3 linked regions of the Homo sapiens genome follow. The protein of the gene in region 1 purifies or fractionates together with the protein of each later gene. This does not show direct contact. Each region holds a gene or a part of one and is shown in the gene's direction. Other genes may lie near its edges.

The links.
Region 2: the proteins of SIL1 (region 1) and UBR1 purify together in Homo sapiens (affinity purification with mass spectrometry; 3 studies listed by BioGRID and IntAct, with this or other methods). This does not show direct contact.
Region 3: the proteins of SIL1 (region 1) and EDRF1 purify together in Homo sapiens (affinity purification with mass spectrometry; 2 studies listed by BioGRID and IntAct, with this or other methods). This does not show direct contact.

The regions. Positions count from the first base shown.
Region 1 is NC_000005.10:139,023,674-139,027,425, reverse strand, and holds part of SIL1 (nucleotide exchange factor SIL1 precursor), read left to right. Parts: intron 1-433; coding exon 434-625; intron 626-3,752.
Region 2 is NC_000015.10:43,104,598-43,108,349, reverse strand, and holds the start of UBR1 (E3 ubiquitin-protein ligase UBR1), read left to right. Parts: upstream 1-2,311; 5' UTR 2,312-2,327; coding exon 2,328-2,408; intron 2,409-3,752. UniProt on the Homo sapiens protein: E3 ubiquitin-protein ligase which is a component of the N-end rule pathway. Recognizes and binds proteins bearing specific N-terminal residues that are destabilizing according to the N-end rule, leading to their ubiquitination and subsequent degradation.
Region 3 is NC_000010.11:125,729,654-125,733,405, forward strand, and holds part of EDRF1 (erythroid differentiation-related factor 1), read left to right. Parts: intron 1-618; exon of another isoform or gene 619-634; coding exon 635-746; intron 747-2,211; coding exon of another isoform or gene 2,212-2,272; intron 2,273-3,750; coding exon 3,751-3,752. UniProt on the Homo sapiens protein: Transcription factor involved in erythroid differentiation. Involved in transcriptional activation of the globin gene.

The DNA.
Region 1 (3,752 bases):
ATTGGGTAGGGCAAGGCCAAGATAGTCTATGATTGTGAGAAGTGGAGAAGTAGGGTGTGGGTTATTCTACCTTAGGTCTCAGCTGTTTCATATGTGGTTTGAGGTTGAAGATGAACTTGCATTACTTCCCCTTAACTCAGTGGTTGTGACAAAAAGCCTTTCTATTCTTCCTGAATATTGGAAATCGGACTTGAATAAGCGAATCTTGGAACATCTTGAGTGTGTTTTTAGAGCTGAGGCCTATATAGGCAGACTTTGAGGGCTGTCTTCTCTGGGCATCTTAGAAAGTATTAGTATTTTTGATAGCATAGATGAGAGAAGACTGTGAGTCTTGGAGCAGCAGTTTTTTGAGGATGGGCATCCATGGTAGACCACAGACATCTTGGGCAGATGTCTCCAACCAATTTAATCACCTCTTTGCTGCTCTCCTTAGGCAAGGCAGGCTGAGGTAAAGCGGCTCTTCCGCCCCATTGAGGAACTGAAGAAAGACTTTGATGAGCTGAATGTTGTCATTGAGACTGACATGCAGATCATGGTACGGCTGATCAACAAGTTCAATAGTTCCAGCTCCAGTTTGGAAGAGAAGATTGCTGCGCTCTTTGATCTTGAATATTATGTCCATCAGGTACTGTATTTCTTCGTCCATAAGTCAGACTTTTAACAGCTCCAAAAATAAATCCCCCTTCCCTAAGCCCTAAGAAAATAGCATCAACATCTTTACTTCTCTCCCAGAGCACAGACTATTTTTAATCTAGTCTTGTTATCTTTTGTAGTAAGATACAGTCTTAGAGGCCAGAGCCAACTTCTTTTTCTTTTTTTGTCTGAGTCAGAGTCTCACTCGGTCACCCAGCCTGGAGTGCAGTGGCGCGATCTCGGCTCACTGCAACCTCCACCTCCTGGGTTCAAGCTATTCTCCTGCCTCAGCCTTCCGAGCAACAGGGATTACAGGTGTGCACCACCACGCCCAGCTAATTTTTTGTATTTTTGATAGAGATAGGGTTTCACTATGTTGGCCAGGCTGGTCTTGAACTCCTAACCTCAAGTGATCCACCCACCTTGTCCTCCCAAAGTGCTGGGATTACAGGCTTGAGCCACCATGCCTGGCCAGCCAACCTCTTTTTCATGTGGAGTGGTACCTTCTTTAGTACCTCTGAGGGTACCACAGAGATAAAATAGACATAGTCCTAGTTATGCAGCTTATAGCCTGGAAGAGGAAGTAATTGAATAATGAACAATTGAACAAATTAATTAAATAATGAGATAATTTAAGATTGTAATGAGGGCTCCAGAGGGTGATGTAAGAATATGTAACTGGAGAACTTAGAGCCTAGTCATGGACAATAAGGGAGGCTTCTCAGAGGATGTGACATTTAGGCCAAGCGTTATAGGATGATTGGGGTTGGCTGGGTGAAGAGGGGGGACTAGAGCAGGGGATGGCAAACTACTGCCCATAGGTCAAATCTGGCCCAACACCTCCTTTCCTAAATAAAATTTTATTGGGGCACAGCAACCCCTATTTGTTCATGCATTGTTTATTGCTGTTTTTATGCCACAATGGCAGAATTGAGTAGTTGTGACAGAGACCATATGGCTCACAAAGTCAAAAATATTTACTACCAGGCCCTTTAGAAAAAGTTTGCCAATCCTTAGATTAGAGCATTCCAGCTAGAGGAAACAACATGTGCAGAGATTCTAGGGCAGGGACAAGCTTGGGGAGATTGAGGGCCTGGAAAAGATTGGAGTGACTGGAGCACAGCGGCCTGGAGGGGAGCATAGATGAAGTGGGAAGGTTCGGGGGCTGGAGAGGTGAGGTTGGAGATATCATGCTCTTTATGATTTTAGCCTTGATCCTAAGAACCACTAGAGAGTTTGAAGCAGGGAAGTAACTGATCAGACTTATAATAACTAATATTTGTTGAGTGTTGTCATATACCAGGCACTGCTTCAAGTGCTCTGTATGCATTAATTCATTGACTTCCGTGGCTGCCCTATGAGTAGGTACCACTATTAATCCCATTTTATAACCGAGGAAAATGAGGCACAGAGAGATTATGTAATTGCTCAAGATCATCCAGCCTAGTGAGTGGTAGAGCTGGAATTTGCAGCAAGGTCTGTCTGACCCTAAACTCTGTGCTCTAAAACTTTTGGCCACTCTGTTTCTCAAAGGCAACTGGTACCTTTTGAATTAAGCTCAAAAGGTGGAGCTAACAAGGAGCCAATAAAAGCCATTGATTTATTCAATAAATAAATCAAGTGTCTACTAACTCCCAGGCACTGTTCCAGGCACTTGAGATACGTCTATGAACAAAATTAGGGCTTAACCTTCTAGCAGAAGCAGATAGACAAGCATAAGAAAGAAGTAATTATATGTAATATGTTTGTAGGTAATAAATACTGTAGAAAAATAGAAACTATGGCGAGATAGGAACTGGCAGCATTGAGAAGGGGCATCTCTGGCTGGAGGAAGAGCAAGTGTGGAAGCCCGGTGGTGGGAACATGCCTAGTGTGTTTGAATCAGCTGGAGCTGAGAGCAGGCAGAGAAGAAGTACATACAGCTCAGAGAGATAATGGGAGGAAGAATATAGAGGGCCTGTAGGCCATGGAAAAGAGTGAACTTGCATATTATTGAAGGATATTGAGCAGAAGAATGATGTGATCTGACTTACTTTTAAAAGGATTCCTCCAGCTACTGTGTTGAGAATTAGACTGCAGGTGGGGGGCTTGGTAGAAGCAGAGACCAGATAGGAGGCTATTGCAGTAATCCAGACTAGGGGCAACAGTGGCCCAGGAGGCTGTGTAATCATAATCAAAGGCTTGTTTGAGATCCTTGTCAAGACACAGATCCTCAATGTCCTCCCATGCACCATGCACGACAGTGCCCTTGTTCTCTGTAAACTGGGCTAAAAGACATGCTTTCTTCCTTTAGGATTTTGCCAGCATCTGTGGTGAAAGAGGATGAGTATGCACTGTATCCATAGGAATTATGGGGCAGCCTCTTCATCTTCTTTCTCTGCTCATAACTCTTTCTCAGGCCTCAAATAGCAGGACTCTGATCCTCTTAGAGAAAAAAAATGAACCTCGGTTCTCTTTCCCCTTTCCAGTCTTACTCTCCAGGGTAAAAACCAAGAACTCCAACAGCTTTTCCATTAGAGATATTTAAAGGATTAAGGATATAAGGGGTTATTTGCCAACTCAGTCCTCCTTTGATGTTGACAGCTTCTATTTTTTCTCATCTTAACATATTTGGATGAATCTTTAGGTATCAGGTCACCATGGGCTCTTGCACATGAAACACCAAAATGACTGGAGAGCTTATCATACCTGGAAGGGTGTGAGTCCACAGGAGGCTTGGGCTAGCATTGCCCCAACAAAGTTCTTTGTTTTCCCTTGTAGGCTCTTTGTCACTTGGCAGTGTCTTCCCTAAGGTGACATCCCCATTCTGCTTTCACAGGCCACCTCACCAGACCCATCCTGAGGTCATCCCAAAATCAGTCCCTGGCAGAAGCCAAATTTGTCTGTTGGCAGAGAAATGTTCTGGATCATTGGTGTTTTGACTGGAAGGGCTGGTGCATCAGGCTGCCATGCAGCAATGTTAAGCTGTGATTTCACTGGGGGATTAAGTAAGACACAACTCGGCCCGAGTCCCAGTTGTGATGGGGGCTTGGGGTGATGTAGTACTAGTTTTAAGGAAGATGGCACTTTCCTAGCCAGGAACTTCCCCAGTCCTTTCTCATTCCAGACTCACTGAATGG
Region 2 (3,752 bases), on another chromosome or scaffold:
TGGGAGGCTGAAGCAGGGGAATTGCTTGAACCCGGGAGGCGGAGGTTGTGGTGAGCTGAGATCACGCCACTGCACTCCAGCCTGGGTAACAAGAGCGAAACTCCATCTGAAAAAATAAATAAATAAGCAGTTCATAATTTCCTTCTCACTTGAAATGCTGTTATCTTTCATGTGTAAAATACTTGAATTTGGTATAAAGTAATAAAGTGAAATGGATAAGAATAGGGCCTTGTGAGTCATTTGAACTGGATTTTATTTATTATTATTTTTTGGTAGAGGTGGGAGTCTTGCTATGTTGCCCATCTCAAACTCCTGGGCTCAAGTAATCCTCCCGCCTTGGCCTCCCAAAGTGCTAACATTACAGGGGTGAGCCATTGTGCTGGCTGAATATCTGCTGTGTCACTTGGAAGCTGCATGTCCCTAACCAAATTATGTAACTTCTCTAAACTTCAGTTTTCTCAGTTTCTCATGACAGTAAAATAGAAGTAGTAACATCTACCTAAAGGATTGTTATTAATATATAGCTAGTGTTATTAATATACTAGTGCTTTGATTACATTAAGATGTTGATAAGTGGCTATTATTTCTTTTTATTTTCTGTTTTTTCTTTTTCTTTTTTTTTTTTTTTGAGACAGAGTTTTGCTCTTGTAGCCCAGGCTGGAGTGCCAGTGGCATGATCTTGGCTCACTGCAAACTCTACCTCCTGGGTTCAAGCAATTTTCCTGCCTCAGCCTCCTGAGTAGCTGGGATTACAGGCACCTGCCACCACACCCAGCTAATTTTTGTATCTTTAATAGACATGGGGTTTCACTGTGTTGTCCAGGCTGGTCTCGAACTCCTGACCTCAGGTGATCCACTCACCTTGGCCTCCCAAAGTGCTGGGATTACAGGCGTGAGCCACTGCCCCGACCTATTTCTGAACGTTCTAGTCTATTTCATTTATCTAGGAATGAAAGAAGAAAAAGAGAAGAGCGTGGGGTAGCATAAGAGAACTACAGAAGTAAAAGCATAGAGACAGGAAGGGACAAGGTAACTTTTAGGGCAATTTTTATCAAAATGTGGGACAATACCTATTGTGGGTTATAGTATCACTTTAATAACTACAACCAGTATTTTGGCTTAAATGCATAAACATATTGCAATTGAATAGAAAATATGACATATTGGAAGTATTGTTTCAGAAAATTTAAGTTTCAGTATATATATACATATTCTATATATACCCATTTAATTTTGTATAGGTGTACCGTGATAAGATGTAAAATGTATTTATTGTGGTTGTTGGGCAAAAAAGGCTGGAAAAACAGTATTTTAGCACCCAGGAAGTAGTTCATTTGAGCAGAAACATTGTTTAGGCAGGAAAGTTCTATAAATCAAGGTGGACCACAGCATTTGGAAAGCCTCCTCTACTTTTCACATTGTTTGGAGCTTTATTTTCTTCCCTTTGTTAAAAATATACTTTAAAATTATTTGTTTTGTAAAAAATTTAAAATACAAATGAAGGTAAAGTAGCTCTTGACCACCTTCTTCCTCCAATCCGAATCCTGGCCCTCAGAGTTACTACTTTGCCCTTTCCCCTTTCAGACTTACTCCTTCACATTTAAATGCCTATGTGTGCAAATATATAGTTTGCAGCAACTTGGCTTTTTTTTCTCTCAATTTATCTTGATCTTTTCACGCAGATTTATCTTGCTCAAGAGCTGCACAGTATTTCAAAATGCGAATGTACCATAGTATATCTTGTCTTTCCTCTATCGATGAATGACTAGGTTTCCAATTTTTTGTTATTTCCCCCCGTGTCCCCCAATAAAGCTGGATCCCGAGCTTTTTTTGTACACATGTGCAAGTGCCCACGGGGTAGAATCCTAAAAATAGAAGATGTGTGAGTACTTTCTTTTTCATTTTGTAGGCTCTGGGGAACTACTGCAGGGAGGTTGGGATACAAAACATCCCCAGGCCAACAACCGGCCAGCTAGGACAGGTTCTTGCTTTAGCCCCCGACAAGTTTTCTTCCTTTCATAATGGACGCTGACTTTGTTTTTTTTACCTCGTAGATGCAACAGTTCCCAGCACCAAACCCAGATATACAACCATTCAGCTACCAAGAGCTACGCCTGATAAATTAGAGGGGAAAAAAAAAATCTCCAGTCCCTTCACGTCGTGACGCTTGCTTCCGGGAAGCGGGCCGGAAGCCACTCCTCGAGTCTGCGTCAAACCCGACTTCAGGGGCCGTCGTAAAAGTGTCGTCCCTGTCTCTCCGACCGGCCACAGGTTTCCGCTTGCCTCTGGCCGGGGGTCGGCAACTGCAGGCGTCAGTTTCCCTCAAGATGGCGGACGAGGAGGCTGGAGGTACTGAGAGGATGGAAATCAGCGCGGAGTTACCCCAGACCCCTCAGCGTCTGGCATCTGTAAGTCCCTATAGGCAAGTCTCTTTTGTCCTCCCCCCGGTCCCTCCCTACTGCGCTTAGGAGGATGTGGGGCTTCACCCCTTATGGCGGCTCTGGGGAGGGGGAGTTATCTGGATTGATCTGGAAGGAAGCCACCGAATAAAAAGTTAGTCGCAACCCACATTTCTGCCAGCCAAGTCTACGGAATATAATGACTTTGTTATGTATTATTCTTGATGATCTCAAGTGTGCATGTCTCTATTCTGAAGTAGAAAGAACCAGTGATGTTATTAGACGGTTTGATGTGGGGGCCGAGGCGGGGTTGGAGCAAGAGCCATTTTCGTATAGAAGCAGTACTAACCCTTTACTCTTGATGATGGGAACGCAGCACCTGGTATTTTATTGCATAGCCTGCTGGCCGGGACCTGATATTGGTAGGTAGTGCTGCTACTGTCAAGTCATGTCTAGATGTGAGGTGTAGTAATTGTCCTTGCGTATAGCATCTTGGGAACCCCAGGCCTAACCCTCAGTGGAGAAACCCATCATCTGTCGCTACTTTTTAAAGGTGAAGAAAGGACTCCCAAACATTTCAAGCCAGAGCAATACCATTAATTGATGTCGGAATCTATACTTTGCTCTTGCATTTTGAAAGAATGGGAAGGCACAGATAGTGAACAAATTTGAGTCACTAGCTACAGGGAGAAAGCTGCCGAGGAAGATAAGAGTAGGGGGCAATGTTAGGGAATGTTCTGGATGCCCAGGGCATCTAGTGTGGAGATATGTAGAAAATATTCAAATATCTGTCACCGCATGATGTTTTATTAGTTTGTCTTTCTAAATAGCAGCATTTAGAGATTTGGGATATACACATTTTTTCTGAAGTTTCTTTGGCTTGTAGTTTAATAAAAACATTATTTTATTTTATTTATTTTTTGAGGCAGAGTTTTGCTCTTGTTGCCCAGGCTGAAGTGCAGTGGTGTAATCTCGGCTCACTGCAACCTTCCGAGTTCAGGAATTGAACTGCAAATTCCCGAGTTCAGGAATTCTCCTGCCTCAGCCTCTTGAGTAGCTGGGATTACAGGTGCCTGCCACCATGCTTGCCTAATTTTTTTTATTTTTATTTTTATTAGAGACGGGGTTTCACCATGTTGGCCAGGCTGATCTCGAACTCCTGACCTCAGGTGATCCACCTGCCTCGGCATCCCAAAGTGCTGGGATTACAGATTAAAAGCATTCTTGAAGGTTTTTTGTTTTTTTTTTTAACCCTGCATACAATTGAACATTGTTTTATGCGAGAACAGAGGGAACTACAGAGGGAGCTACGGCATGAGTCAACTCCAGGGACTGAAGAGACTGTCTAGGAGG
Region 3 (3,752 bases), on another chromosome or scaffold:
CTTCCTCTTTCTCTAGGTTTTTTCCCCTCCCTCCTTCCCCTGCCAGTTGAAATGGCCACATTAAGGAAGGAGCTACTGTCAGCAGATGCTGAAAGGCAGGCCTATAGCTGAGTCTTCATTCTAGACCTCATTGAATAGAGCCAGAGGTTTGTTGGACTGGCCTAGTCTTAGGTCTGAATCTACAACTTGTGAGAATATTCAAGAGAGTTTATTTAATTAGTTAGATTCCTACTAACTACTTGTGAGCATTTTTCTTAATGCTCCACGTGTATTTGTTGATATTAGCCAATGTGAATTCCAACTTAAGCATGGTCTTGTATGGTGTTCAGTCTTTCTTCAAGTTGTGTGTGAGGAGCAGGCAGTAGGCTCACCGTCCTTTCCTATTATATTGTCTTCTATTCTTACTGAAAACTTACCAATGTCAGTTAGAAATACAAGCAAGCTTTTGGAAAGATGTTAAATATAGCACAACCACTGAGCTGCATGTGCATATCTTATCAGAAAAGAAAGCATAGATGGCATTTTCTATCTAGAGAGGACAGCTTAAGATACTTAAATGGTGAAATAACTTTCAGATGATTAATTAAGGAACATCTTAATTAAACCAAATAACACTAGAAATGTATATTTTTAGGGATAACAACAAACCAATTAATGTGCTAACTGGAATTGACTATTGGTTGGACAACTTGATATGCAATGTGCCAGAGCTTGTGATGTGTTTTCATGTAAATGGAATTGTACAGGTAAGATACAGTGTGATTTTTCTGATCTCTCAAATGCAAATTGGTACAGAGAGTTCCTCACCAAAGTCTTTACGGCCCTGAAGTACTAAGGTGCATTTTTGCCAGGGAAGATAGCTGTGAATAAACTGAATTTGAGTGTACATTTAAGTTGGTGATAACAGAATTGTAGATGTTATAGAAGTATAATTTTACAGGTAATTTGGAGGAAGTTCATAAATATATGAAAACCTGCATTTGTAGCCATAGAACTCTAATTTTAATGCCAAGCTCTCATTAATAATTAACTGAAAGTGTCTACACAATGGAGGCGTTTCTTCGTTATGCAAATATCTACTCAGTACATGCAAAGTTTTAGGGAAAGGTCTTGTAAAAATTGCATATGGTGGATAGCTTATATAGCAAATTCTTATTGAGCATATTCTGTTTAGAAGACACGTATCCCCATTATAAGTGTTGGGGGAAGCTAGGCGTGTTGGCTTATTCCTGTAATCCCAAGCTACTCAGGAGACTGAGGCAGCAGGATCACTTGAAGCCGAGAGTTCAAGACCAACCTGGGCAACGTAGTGAGACCCTAATTGTAGAAAAACAACGCACACACTTAGTTGGGCATGGTGGTACATGTCTGTAGTCCCAGCTACTTGGGGGCTTGAAGCAGGAGGATCACTTGAGCCCAGGAGTTTGAGGCTGCAGTGAGCTATGATCGTGCCACTGCACTCCAGTATGAGTGACAGAGCAAGACCCTGTCTCAAAAAAATAAAAAAATTGAGAATTTAAACAATAAATAATTGTTGAAGGAAAACAAAGAATAAGCTTGGTTGTTATTCAGAAAGAGATAATCTAATGGGAAATAATATGCAGAGAGAACAGTAGGAGACAGATAAGAATTAGAAGTGTAGCACACAGAAATCTAGATCATCAGAGAAGGGGGTGAGCACTTCCATTCAGGTCTGGAGGAAAGACTTTGTGGAAGAAGGGACATCTTAACTGAGTCCTGAATGATAGCTAGTATCTCAAAAAATAAGAGCTGGATTTTAAAAGTCTAGTGTAAATACATGAAAGGATTGATAATAAATCCAGCTAGGGAACACAGGATTTATGTAGCAGAATAGCTGCAAGTAAGGTTGGAAAAGTCATGGTCAAATGATGGAGATCTTAAATGTTGAGCTAAGGAGTATGGACTTGGTTCAGTTGGTAATCTGGAATCAGAAGGCTTTGCATCTAGGAGGGGAAATTTGTTGTGTTAGAATATTAATTTAGAGATAGCATATAGGACAGAAAAGGAGGACTTAGAGACAAGAAAACCAGAGGCATTGTACCATTTTGCAGATAGTGTAATGTACTTTCCACTAGAGAGGAACTATTAAGAATCAACAATGGTAAGAATAGATAGCATTTATTGAGTGCTTATTTTATCCAAGCACTTTGCTGAATGCTTTAAATGCTTTACCTTATTTGATCTTCTTAGCTACCTCACATGCTGTTATTCCTATTTGATGGAAAGAGAGACTGAGGATCAAGGAGCTCAAGTGAGTTGCCCAGGGTCAACTTAGTAGTGAGTGGCGGTGCCAGTCTTTGTGCCTCTCTCTGGCTGAGGACATGCTTTGAACCGTTATATTCCAACCCAGTGATTCTTAACCTGGTTGTGCATCAGAATCACTTGTGGTCTCTGAAAAAATGCACTTGCTTGGGCCCCCAGTGTTCTAGTATCAGTAGGATGTGTACTTCTGTCTTTTCTGAAAGTCTGCTGTATGATTCTGGTTTGCAGTCTTGATTGAAAACCACTGTTAGACCATCTCCCTAAATGGCAACATTTAGTGAGAGGCTGGGGTGGGAGTGGGGAGCAAGAGAAAAGAGAGAGGCAGATAAAGCGTTAGCAAGGCGGAGGGGAACAGGAGTCAAAGGAGATTCCAGGGTTTAGGGACTAGAATAATGGTGGTGCCATTTAGTGAGATAAGGATGTTGAATTGGTTTAGACAGGGAAGGTAATATGTTTTTGTCACATGTTCAGTTTGAGGAAAGTATAAAAATGTCTAGTGAGCATTTTGAAGTTGCAGCCATTAGAGAAATAAATTGAAGCATCATCTGCCTAGATACTGTCAGATTTCATCACCAGAGGAATCTATTAAAATCAGACATTGGAGCCTCTCCTCATAGGGGTAAAAATAGAAGGGCATTTAGAGAGAGAGAAGGAGAACAAGAATAGCACAGATTAAAATACAGGAAAGGAGCATTTTAAGGAAGGAAATAATCAACATTGGGGACTTCACATGAACAAAGTGGGGTGAAAATCAACCTCAGACGATTGTGTTTGGTCTTACATTCCAGTTGATTTGAAGTTTCCAGTTTTAGAGTACTTCAGAAAATGTGGTAGGAGATGGTTAGGAGAGTGTGCACAGAAGATAAACAAGAAAAATGCAAAGGCACTTTTAAAATAGTGGTAGTAATGTCCATGAAGCCTTTACTCTTATTGCCACCTCCATTCCCCCCTGCTCCATCCCTGTGAAGTAATAAAGTCCATAGATGAAGGGAAGAGAGGTGTCTACTGGAAAATTTCCTAAATGATTCTCTCTCCTTGAGTCACTGACTGTAGTTTCTAGCAAAAAAAAAGGCCAGAAATACATGTGTTTTAAAATCTTGCTGGGTAAAGCCTACCTTCATTTACCATCTTCCCAGTTGAAAACCATTCAAGTGGAATAAAAGTAGTCAGTATGATTTGTTCCATGTTAGAACAGAAATAAGATCATGCCTGAATCTGAGGTTCTAAATCTGGTAGTGATTCTCCATTGAAATTACTCCAATAGTGAACTGCCCTTGCTGATGGGGTGGATGAGATTCCTTTGGGAGGCTGGGGCAGAAAAAAGATTAAAAACCACTGGTTTAAACACTTTCATGCTACATAGGTCTCTGTTTGCAGGACTTCTGCATTTGGTTGCTTTTTAAAAAGAAAGGTGTTGTTTCCTTGGGTTTTCTCTTAAACTGCTTTCCATCTGTCTGTATTTTACAGAA